Homo sapiens: one gene and its partner. The protein of the gene in region 1 interacts with the protein of each later gene in a biochemical or structural test. Each region holds a gene or a part of one and is shown in the gene's direction. Other genes may lie near its edges.

What was found.
Region 2: of the proteins of PYY (region 1) and MEP1B, one has a biochemical effect on the other in vitro, tested with the Homo sapiens proteins (one study listed by BioGRID).

Annotation. Positions count from the first base shown.
Region 1 is NC_000017.11:43,951,434-43,956,588, reverse strand, and holds PYY (peptide YY isoform 1 preproprotein), read left to right. Parts: upstream 1-2,648; 5' UTR 2,649-2,739; intron 2,740-3,105; coding exon 3,106-3,293; intron 3,294-3,399; coding exon 3,400-3,480; coding exon of another isoform or gene 3,481-3,484; exon of another isoform or gene 3,485-3,608; coding exon 3,609-3,633; 3' UTR 3,634-3,856; downstream 3,857-5,155. UniProt on the Homo sapiens protein: This gut peptide inhibits exocrine pancreatic secretion, has a vasoconstrictory action and inhibitis jejunal and colonic mobility.
Region 2 is NC_000018.10:32,206,028-32,210,538, forward strand, and holds part of MEP1B (meprin A subunit beta isoform 1 precursor), read left to right. Parts: intron 1-1,224; coding exon 1,225-1,443; intron 1,444-2,091; coding exon 2,092-2,244; intron 2,245-4,473; coding exon 4,474-4,511. UniProt on the Homo sapiens protein: Membrane metallopeptidase that sheds many membrane-bound proteins. Exhibits a strong preference for acidic amino acids at the P1' position. Known substrates include: FGF19, VGFA, IL1B, IL18, procollagen I and III, E-cadherin, KLK7, gastrin, ADAM10, tenascin-C.

The DNA of each region.
Region 1 (5,155 bases):
CCCTCCCCTTTGATTCTGTCCCCCACCCTTCAAGGACAAACCGGAGGCAGGTCCTGGTCTCACTTCTACAAAAACAATTGTTTCTGAAGTTTCCCCCCTCACACCCTAGACATGTCTCATGGCCACTGAGTCATGCAGCAATGATGGGTGTGGGTGTGTGGATCGGGGGGTGGCTGAGCCCATTGATCGAGGGCTGAGACATTTTCCCCGCTAATCAACAAGTTAATAAGCTCTTCGATGAGGAGGCGGTGATTAATGAACCAATCAGCTTGCCCTGTAATTGGGGAGTGAGATTGGAGGGTGGGGGTATGAGGGATAGAGAGGGTTTGCGGGGATGTGCGGCTGGCTCCTGGTCCACACTGAGACCACCTAGGGGCCCATTTACTTTGGCTATAAATGAGGAAGTGACTTCTTCAGAGGTTGTAGCCCGAATTCAGGCCACCCCATGCCCTCTAGCTTCTACAGTGTCTCTCCTCTCTTCCCATCTGTCCTTGGACTCCACATTCCCCAAGACATGACAGGGTTCCAGGGATGTCAGATTCCCCATGGCCATCTCACAGTTTCCTTCGTCTCTGTCCAGAATCGGTGCACTAGAAATCCCCTACCAGCACCATGGTTAGTGCCGCCGCAGGGTCAGAAGAGCAAATAGCCCCCTACTCTCTGGTATCCTTGCCCCCGTTAGCCTGCAGGGTCCTTCTCTAGGCCCTGATCCCTGGGATCACAGATGTCCTAACCAGCCCCCACTGCTCCCTCCATCCTAGGGTGAGCACCTGTCTTTTGTCTTTCCATGGAGGAATGGAATTATTTGATTTCTGCTGTCTCCCCTCCAAACAGGACAAAGGCTGTCTCTGTCTCTCTGTATCTGTTCTGGGAACCGCTCATACTGGGGCTCCCCTATGACATGGCCATATCTCTCCTTTGAGACTGGGGTTCTTGAAGGGCAGGGGTGTGTCTTGCCCCCTGGATGAGGGCTCCCTAAGAAGAATGATTTTTCTCCTCCCTCCAAGGGCAGGATCTATGTCCCCTTGTCCTGGTGTCCTCTTCCACCCCCATGCTCAGCAGGGCACCCTGGTGTTTCCTGGGATGTGGAGTCCCATGGGGCCTGACTGGCTGATAAGGAGCCATTTCCGGAGAATGCAGGTGATTGAACCCATAAAATGGTGACAGAGAGCCCTGAACTCCCCATCTCAGGAGAGCTCTAAAAATAGCGCCCACAGCCATCTGTCCTGGGGCTGGAGGGGCTGGCTCAGAACCAAGGGCCTGGACAAGTTGGCCCCATCAGTCCCTATGGGCCGATGGGACATCTGGAAGTACTGGAGGTCTGGCGAGGCCAGGGAGAGGAAGCTGGAAGGGCTTTATGGGGAGACCTTCCCACAGCCCTTTCTCCTCCTGGGCAGGTGGGTTTGAGGGGGTTGGCAGTCTGAAGGTCCTTCCCCTACTCCGCCTCTCAGAGTGGGTGTGGGCCCTAGACTTAGTCTTCGGGTCCCTGCTCCCAGGCCTGCCTCTGGCGCCCCAATGGCTACTCCAGGTGCTGAGCCTTTCTGCCCCTCACAATTGAGAGGTCCTCTTCCTGGGTTCTGCCTCACCCTGCTTTTCCTGTTTGAATTGTGGGTGAGCTTGGCTGCTCCATCACCTCCCAGGGCTTCAGTTTCCTCATCTGGAAAATGGAGATAAACTCAGCTCATCGTCTTGTGATGCCCGAAATTATGCACTACCTAGTGCATAGTAGGTGCTTAATAAACACGAGTCCTTTCCTTCAAAGGATCTGGGCTTAGAGCCCAGTGGAGACTGCCATGGGCTGGGGACAGTGGCATGTGCCTGGGAAGCCTTGGCATCACTCAGGCCCAGAAGACACCAGTGCTCTGAATGACACCTGCATAGGGGTGGAGACACTCTGCCTTGGGAGGGGGCTCTATACCACACATGGCTGGACTGGGGTCTGTGTGTGCCAGTCTGGATACACAGGTGGCCGACTCAGCTGCTTCTGGCGGGGAGATTGGTTTCTGCCTCCTCCTGCCTCTTTTCCAACTCTTTAATAGAGAGAGGACATAATGGAGTGTTCAGAGAGGCCTCTCCCCAAGACACCATAAACTGCAGGTCAGGAGCCAAGGTCAGGTGCTCCCACCCTGCCTCCAGGAGAAAGACTTTCCCCAAAAGGTCCTGTCATTCCTCAGCCCTTCTCCAAGGTATTACTGAACAGAGGCTGAAAAGGGTTGTCTTTTGGAAAGAGTGGTCACACATCCCACGGACTGGAGGGAATGTGTCCACCCTCCCACCCCCAACTCCCATCCACGGACAGGCTAGGGAAGACAGAATCTCAACCCTGGTCCTAGGGGCTGCCCCAGGAGTCTAGATCCAACCGCTTCACTTCCTCAGGAGGCTAGACCTGCCACTGGGGGGCTGTGGGGTGAACATGGGGTTCAGGCTGGGTACCCCATCCAGTGAGACCACGAATCTGAGCATGGCAACTGCCCCCTCAGCTCCTGCGAGGTGGAGACATCACGCACTGGCTGGGTATAAGCTCAGCGATCTGGCGAGGGTGGAAGGAGGGAGGAAGAAGGGCCCACCCCCTGCTGGCTCCCCCTCCCCCTGGGACTCCCCCTCCCTTTCCAGGCGGGGATATAAGCCCCACAAGGAAAGCGCTGAGCAGAGGAGGCCTCAGCTTGACCTGCGGCAGTGCAGCCCTTGGGACTTCCCTCGCCTTCCACCTCCTGCTCGTCTGCTTCACAAGCTATCGCTGTGAGTGGCTGGGGGCTCAAGCCTGGGGAAACCCAGGCTGTTTTGTGGGGAAACTGAGGCTGGGATGGTGGAAGCTGGGGGTGAGTGGTAGGAAACTGGATTGGAGGGGGCCATCGGAGGTGGGAAGGAGGCCAGCAGCGGGGGTGGGGGTGGGGAGGCAGGCAGGGCTTATGCTCCTCTGACATGAGGAAACTGAGTCAGGAGACGGTGCAGTGCCCAAGAACACACAGCAAGCCCGGTGGCTGAGCCTTGGTCCGGTACCAGCCCCAGGGAGAGCGTCGGAGCGCGGCCCCGACGGCAGCCGCAGCCTCCCGCCGTGTAGGGTCGAGGCTTGGAATGACCCACGTCCCAATGTCGCCTTCCCAGATGGTGTTCGTGCGCAGGCCGTGGCCCGCCTTGACCACAGTGCTTCTGGCCCTGCTCGTCTGCCTAGGGGCGCTGGTCGACGCCTACCCCATCAAACCCGAGGCTCCCCGCGAAGACGCCTCGCCGGAGGAGCTGAACCGCTACTACGCCTCCCTGCGCCACTACCTCAACCTGGTCACCCGGCAGCGGTGAGCGCAGGCGCGGAGCGGGACCCCTGGGGCTCTCACCCTGCGGCCCCGCTCCACCTGGGGGCGTGGCCAGATCTGACCACGCTCTTCCCTTCCCCGCCCCCAGGTATGGGAAAAGAGACGGCCCGGACACGCTTCTTTCCAAAACGTTCTTCCCCGACGGCGAGGACCGCCCCGTCAGGTCGCGGTAAAAGCGCCCGTTACCACACATCCTGCATCCGAGAGCGCGGCCTGGCCCTACCCTGGCAACATCACTTAACGACGTCTCCCAGGCTCGCCTCCCCAGATCCAATTCCTTCCCCTTCGCTTCCGCAGGTCGGAGGGCCCAGACCTGTGGTGAGGACCCCTGAGGCCTCCTGGGAGATCTGCCAACCACGCCCACGTCATTTGCATACGCACTCCCGACCCCAGAAACCCGGATTCTGCCTCCCGACGGCGGCGTCTGGGCAGGGTTCGGGTGCGGCCCTCCGCCCGCGTCTCGGTGCCCCCGCCCCCTGGGCTGGAGGGCTGTGTGTGGTCCTTCCCTGGTCCCAAAATAAAGAGCAAATTCCACAGAAACGGAATGTATGCCTTTGTATTTCCTTTCCTTTCTCCTTCGTGGAGGTGGCATCCCGTAGAAGTGGAGGGTGGAGGCGTGGGGGCCAGGGAAGAGAAAACCGACTTGGACAGAGGCGCCCCAGGACAAGGCTGGGGCGGGCTGCGGAGTTCCCTCTGCTCGGAGCCCAGGGAAGACTCGACCACCCAGCCTGGAGCTGGACAGCGCCCAGGCCAGGAACTGCTGTGGAAGGAACTCTGGTCGAGTGGGGGCAGGAGTGGATGGAACTCTGGAAGAAGGGGCGGGGAGCGGCGACAGGAGCCTGCTAGGCAGCCTAGGAGAGCAGATGGGGTCAGGGCTGTCCCTCCCCCACCCCGTGAAGCCGAAGACGGCTGGGGGACGAGTCGGGCACCAACACCCCGGGGCGTTTCCCCAGGAGCTGTAGTACTAGCGCCCAGGGCTGGAGTGGCTGGAGGTGAAGTGTAATCCAAAATGGGGCTGTGGAGGAAGAGCCGTGTGGGGGTGAGATGGCTGTACGTGTGCTGGCCGGAGAGGCAGGCCATTTCTACCGTCCCCCTTTCCCTGAGTAGAGGAGCAATGGGAGTGTGGAGGCTGCCCTATCCCTAAGAAACCTCCCTCCCCAATCTCGCTGAATTCACACGCAGTGGATAAGTCACGAACTGTTCTTTCTTAGTGACAAGGCCATAGGGACACCCTCCATGTACCCCCCTCCCCTGGACTAGCTACTGAAGCCTAAAGGCTCTGTGGATGTTTAAACTGGAATCCAACTCGAATCCCTCACCACTCTGTACCTATTCCAGAGCCTGCCTGCAGACTGATCTCCCCTGACATCCACCCTTCCCTGCCCCTTTCCTCCAAGAAGCTTGCCTTGATTGCCCAATTGCACTCTTCCTGCCCTCTCTAACTGCCCAGCTCTCAGGGCCTCTGCTCTGTTCACTGAGAGTTCTATGTCTCTGTGTCCTGTCTCCCTCCTGGGGCCTCAAGAAGGAAGGGCCTATGTCTCCTTCCTGGGACACAGCCTCCTGTATCTGTGGGCTCTCTTCTGGGACTCCAGTTCAGCAAGACCTGCCCAAATCTGAAGCAGGGCACTAGGAGATGAGGGGGGAAATCAGGTTGACTTCAAAACCTGTGACCCAGAGAGGGGAAAAACGACAGGAAGGCTGGGGGCATCCTTGCAGCGGATCAGGGGTTTTTTTGTTTTGTTTTTTGTTTTAGAGATGGAGTTTTTGCTTTTGTCGCCCAGGCTGGAGTGCAGTGGTGCGATCTTGACTCACTCCAACCTCCACCTCCTGGGTCCAAGTGATTC
Region 2 (4,511 bases), on another chromosome or scaffold:
CTGGAGTGCAGTGGTGCGATCTTGGCTCACTGCAACCTCCACCTCCTGGGTTCAAGTGATTCTCCTGCCTCAGCCTCCCGAGTAACTGGGATTATAGGCGCCCGCCACCACACCCGGCTAATTTTTGTATTTTTAGTAGAGACAGGGTTTAAACATGTTGGCCAGGCTGGTTCATTGTGCTTTAAATACATCTACACCTATTCCAGTAACCATGAATTATGGTTAGTCAATAACTGCATGTCAATGCTTTTTAATGACTCCTCTGTAGGATAACTAGAAAGTTATCATTCCCAGGTTTCATCTCACCATCCCTTCAAAGCCTTCTTACTTCCATCTCCATCTACTGTGGACGTCCTCAGCCTGCCATCGTTGCTGGCCAATGCCCTGACTGGTTCAACAACACTTTTTTTTTTTTTTTTTGAGACAGAGTCTTACTTTGTCACCCAGGCTGGAGTGCAGTGGCGTGATCACAGCTCACTGCAGGCTCGACTTCCCAGGCTCAGGCAATCCTCCCACCTCAGCCTCCGGAGTAGCTGGGACTACAGGCATGCACCACCATGCCTGGCTAATTTTTAAAATATTTATTTTATTTTATTTTATTTGAGATGGAGTCTCATTCTGTCACCTAGGCTGGAGTGCAGTAGTGCAATCTTGGCTCACTGCAACCTCCGCCTCCTGGGTTCAACCAATTCTCCTGCCTCTGCCTCCTGAGTAGCTGGGATTATAGGTGCGCACCACCACAATGGACTGATTTTTGTATTTTTAGTAGAGACAGGGTTTCACCATGTTGGTCAGGCTGGTCTCGAACTCCTGACCTCATGATCCGCCTGCCTCGACCTCCCAAAGTGCTGGGATTACAGGCGTGAGCCACCACGCCCGGCCTTAAAATATTTATTAGAGATGAGGTCTCACTTTGTTGCCCAGGCTGGTTAGCAGCACTTTCTAGAATCCTCCTTTCCACGAGCAATTTTTACAGCCTTAGACTAAATGCCAATGTCCTAACTATGGGCTGCAATAGAACCTTAGATATGTTCAGTGTGACTGCTGGTATCACAGTTCTAAGCTTGAATATTATATTGTAAGATGGGAATAATGAAACTGTTGTTAGTTGTAGCAAAAATTGCTTGAGTTTATTATATTCTCCATTTCTAAGTGAGCAGTATTTGGAGTAAGATAAGCTGAATTTTGTGAACATCAAGTAAAGATTTTTTATTTATCCTTTAGGCAGAGAGCACAATTTTAACACCTATAGTGACGATATATCAGATTCCCTGAATGTTCCCTATGATTACACTTCAGTAATGCACTACAGTAAAACTGCATTCCAAAATGGAACAGAGCCGACAATTGTCACAAGAATCTCAGACTTTGAGGATGTGATCGGCCAACGAATGGATTTCAGTGACTCTGATCTCCTAAAGTTGAATCAACTGTATAACTGCTGTATGTGACAGGTTCTTTGAAATGACTTATATTTTCCGCTGTTATGTAGGAAAAAATGATGGTCTGTGCCATTTTGTCAAGCATTGGTGGGGTTTCTGCGATTATAGAGATTTGATATTCAGGAAATAAACAGAATAGCACTCAGATCTCAATCTACAACTTGGAAGCAGCATTTTTCTTTTCACCACGTCTGGTGTTGAGATCTAAAAACAAATTGGGTCCTGTAGGAATATGCCTCAGGCAAGTTTTTAAAGCTGTTACTAATTCAAACCTCGGTCAGATTGATACTCACACTTCCTTTTAGCCAAAATGATATGTCTAGTTGTAATATGAATGGGATCAAATAATCTGGATTGTGGCTTAATGATTCGAATAACTAGGGGAGTATAGACTCAGGTTTCTACAAATTAGAAAATTTTTTTTAAAAAAGACTTCAGGCAGGGAGCTTATTCAGATCTACAGAATTCATTACCTTCTTTGTAGGGGTTCTGCAAATAAAGAGGGATCTTTAAGCCACCATCATCCAGAATCAGCTAGGTGTTCCCTGTAATACCAACCTGGCATTTCTAATACTGTGATAAGTTCAGTTTTTGTTACTTAGATTATCATGTTGTATGAGTGTCAATAATTGTTTTTTGCTTTTTGTAGCCTCTTCCTTGAGTTTTATGGACTCGTGCAGTTTTGAACTGGAAAATGTGTGTGGCATGATCCAAAGTTCAGGAGATAATGCTGACTGGCAACGGGTTTCACAGGTTCCCAGGGGGCCAGAGAGTGATCACTCCAACATGGGCCAGTGCCAAGGTAACAGGAGTGAGATATTCCTAGACTGTATACTCAGTGGCTACAGCCACATACTTCTCTATGAAAGAATGGGATTTTATCTCTAATTTCTATCAGAATTATTAATGATTATTCATTAGGTTACTACTGAGAAGTAGGCCTTGCACCTGATAAAGACATTGTTAATTTCTTTGCTTTTCCTTCCTGAGTTTATTTTTCTTTCTACAAGTCAGAGCTGGGCTCTGTGATGCCTCTACCAGTGCGTTCCCATAGGAGAGTGTACCAGACTGGGCCTCCTGCAAGGCCTCTTATCTCAGGGGCAGTACTATTGTTTCCTAGAAGTTTGCAGAATACAAGAGACTCTTTCCAATGGACAGCACTAGGCTGCGAATTATTGTTTCAGAACTGTAGCTGGATGTGATTATATGCTCCTGTTACAAAAATATCTAAAAAGCAGAGTTTATTTAATTTTCTTCAGATGCGTATCCTTTTCCATTTTCATTTTGTTTTGCCTTAAGTAGTTATTTGGCTACAAGGACCAAATTTTTACGTATTTGCTTATTCTGGCATCAAATATGTAAAACTAGACTTCAGAACTTAGGGCCAGTGCTTAATAGCTCAGATGATCTAGGCAGGAATTGGAGGCCTCTAATGGCAAAAAGGTGCTTTTCCTTTTATTTTTCTTTTTAAATGCATATTTGGATAGTGGATAGTGGTCCTACTCAGACCAGAGGAAAGTAGATAGGGAGGGAGGGGGAAAAGAAGAAGAATCCAGACCAGGTAGCTCTCACTTTTTTCTGTTTTTGAAAACTAATTTCTGTGGTAAGGGAAAGGTTCCCTAATGTTGTCTCTTTCATAAATCGCCTGCTCCTAGAACCATATTTAAATGCCCAACACAATTCCCTGCATATAGTGGAAACTAAGCGAATACTTGAAATAAGGTAAAGAAAATTGGGCCGGGTGCAGTGGCTCATGCCTGTAATCCCCGGCCTTTGGGAGGCCAAGGTGGGCGGATTACCTGAGGTTGGGAGTTTGAGACCAGCTGGGCCAACATGGTGAAACCCTGTCTCTACTAAAAATGCAAAAATTAGCTGGGTGTGGTGGTGCATGTCTGTAGTCCCAGCTAGTTGGGTGACTGAGGCAGGAGAATCACTTGAACCCGGGGGGCAGAGGTTGTAGTGAGCTGAGATCATACCATTGCGTATCAGCCTGGACAACAGAGTAAGACGTTGTCTCAAAAAAAAAAAAAAAATGAAAGAAAATATATATACACTCAAACCAGAATTACTAGCTGTGCCTTCTTTAGAGATGGCTTAGAAGGTTAAGTATTGCAGATAATGAAAGCAGATAAGTGGGAGGTGCCTCTGAAATTATCAGGTTCAGTTATTCTCAATTTTTTCATTACAAGTATCATTTTAAAAATATTAAAATGTGAATCTCCCCAGATGGTTGCTGTAGTTAACAATATCTTCTGAAAGTTGAATTTCTTTCTTCCTTTTCTTTTTTTCTTCCTTCTTTTTTTGTGACAGTTTGAAGCCAAAGAAGTTAGAAAGTGTTTAAAAAAAAAAGGGGGGCGGGCAGGTCAGCCAAGGCCCTGGTTTCCTGGCTGGACTCTCACCTCTGTCCGCAGTGTGTGTTCACCTTTCCAGAAAGACCTAGAAGTTCACGTTGAATTACCCTTGGGAGACACAGATGCTACAACTCTCTACCCACCCAAGTTTCAAACCCTCGTTTTGACTTAATTTCCATTTTCCTTTTTCATATTCTCAGCGGGGGAACAACCCTCTGTAGCATCTTTGTCCAATGGTAGCTCTTTCCACTTGGAGCTGGACCAGGGTTTTGGACACTTGAAAGGTGTCCCATGTAGAATCTACCTTTTAGCCCTGCTGTTTGGGCTTGACCTGCAGCCTTACAGTGGATTTTTAAAAAGTTAGCATTTGATACTTAAACTTGCTTTATCTTTATAGCTCATAACAAATGAAGATAAGCAAGGATTAGTGCCCACGGAAAACTACTATTGTAAGTAAACGTTTTATAAATAATAGAGAGGTTTGAGTTTTATACTGTTATGTCAATCTGCTAGCTTTTGCAAGTGCCAGATATGTAGCTTAGGCTTCTGTCATTTCTCCCTGGCGATTTATATATGGATGTTACTTATGCCTCGCGTAAAGAATCTAGCACCACCATTAACAAACACACATTCCTATACCCAGTATCTGTTTTTCTCTCAATTCTGCTTTTCTTTAACAGGTTCTGGTTTCTTCATGCATTTCGATAGCAGCTCTGTA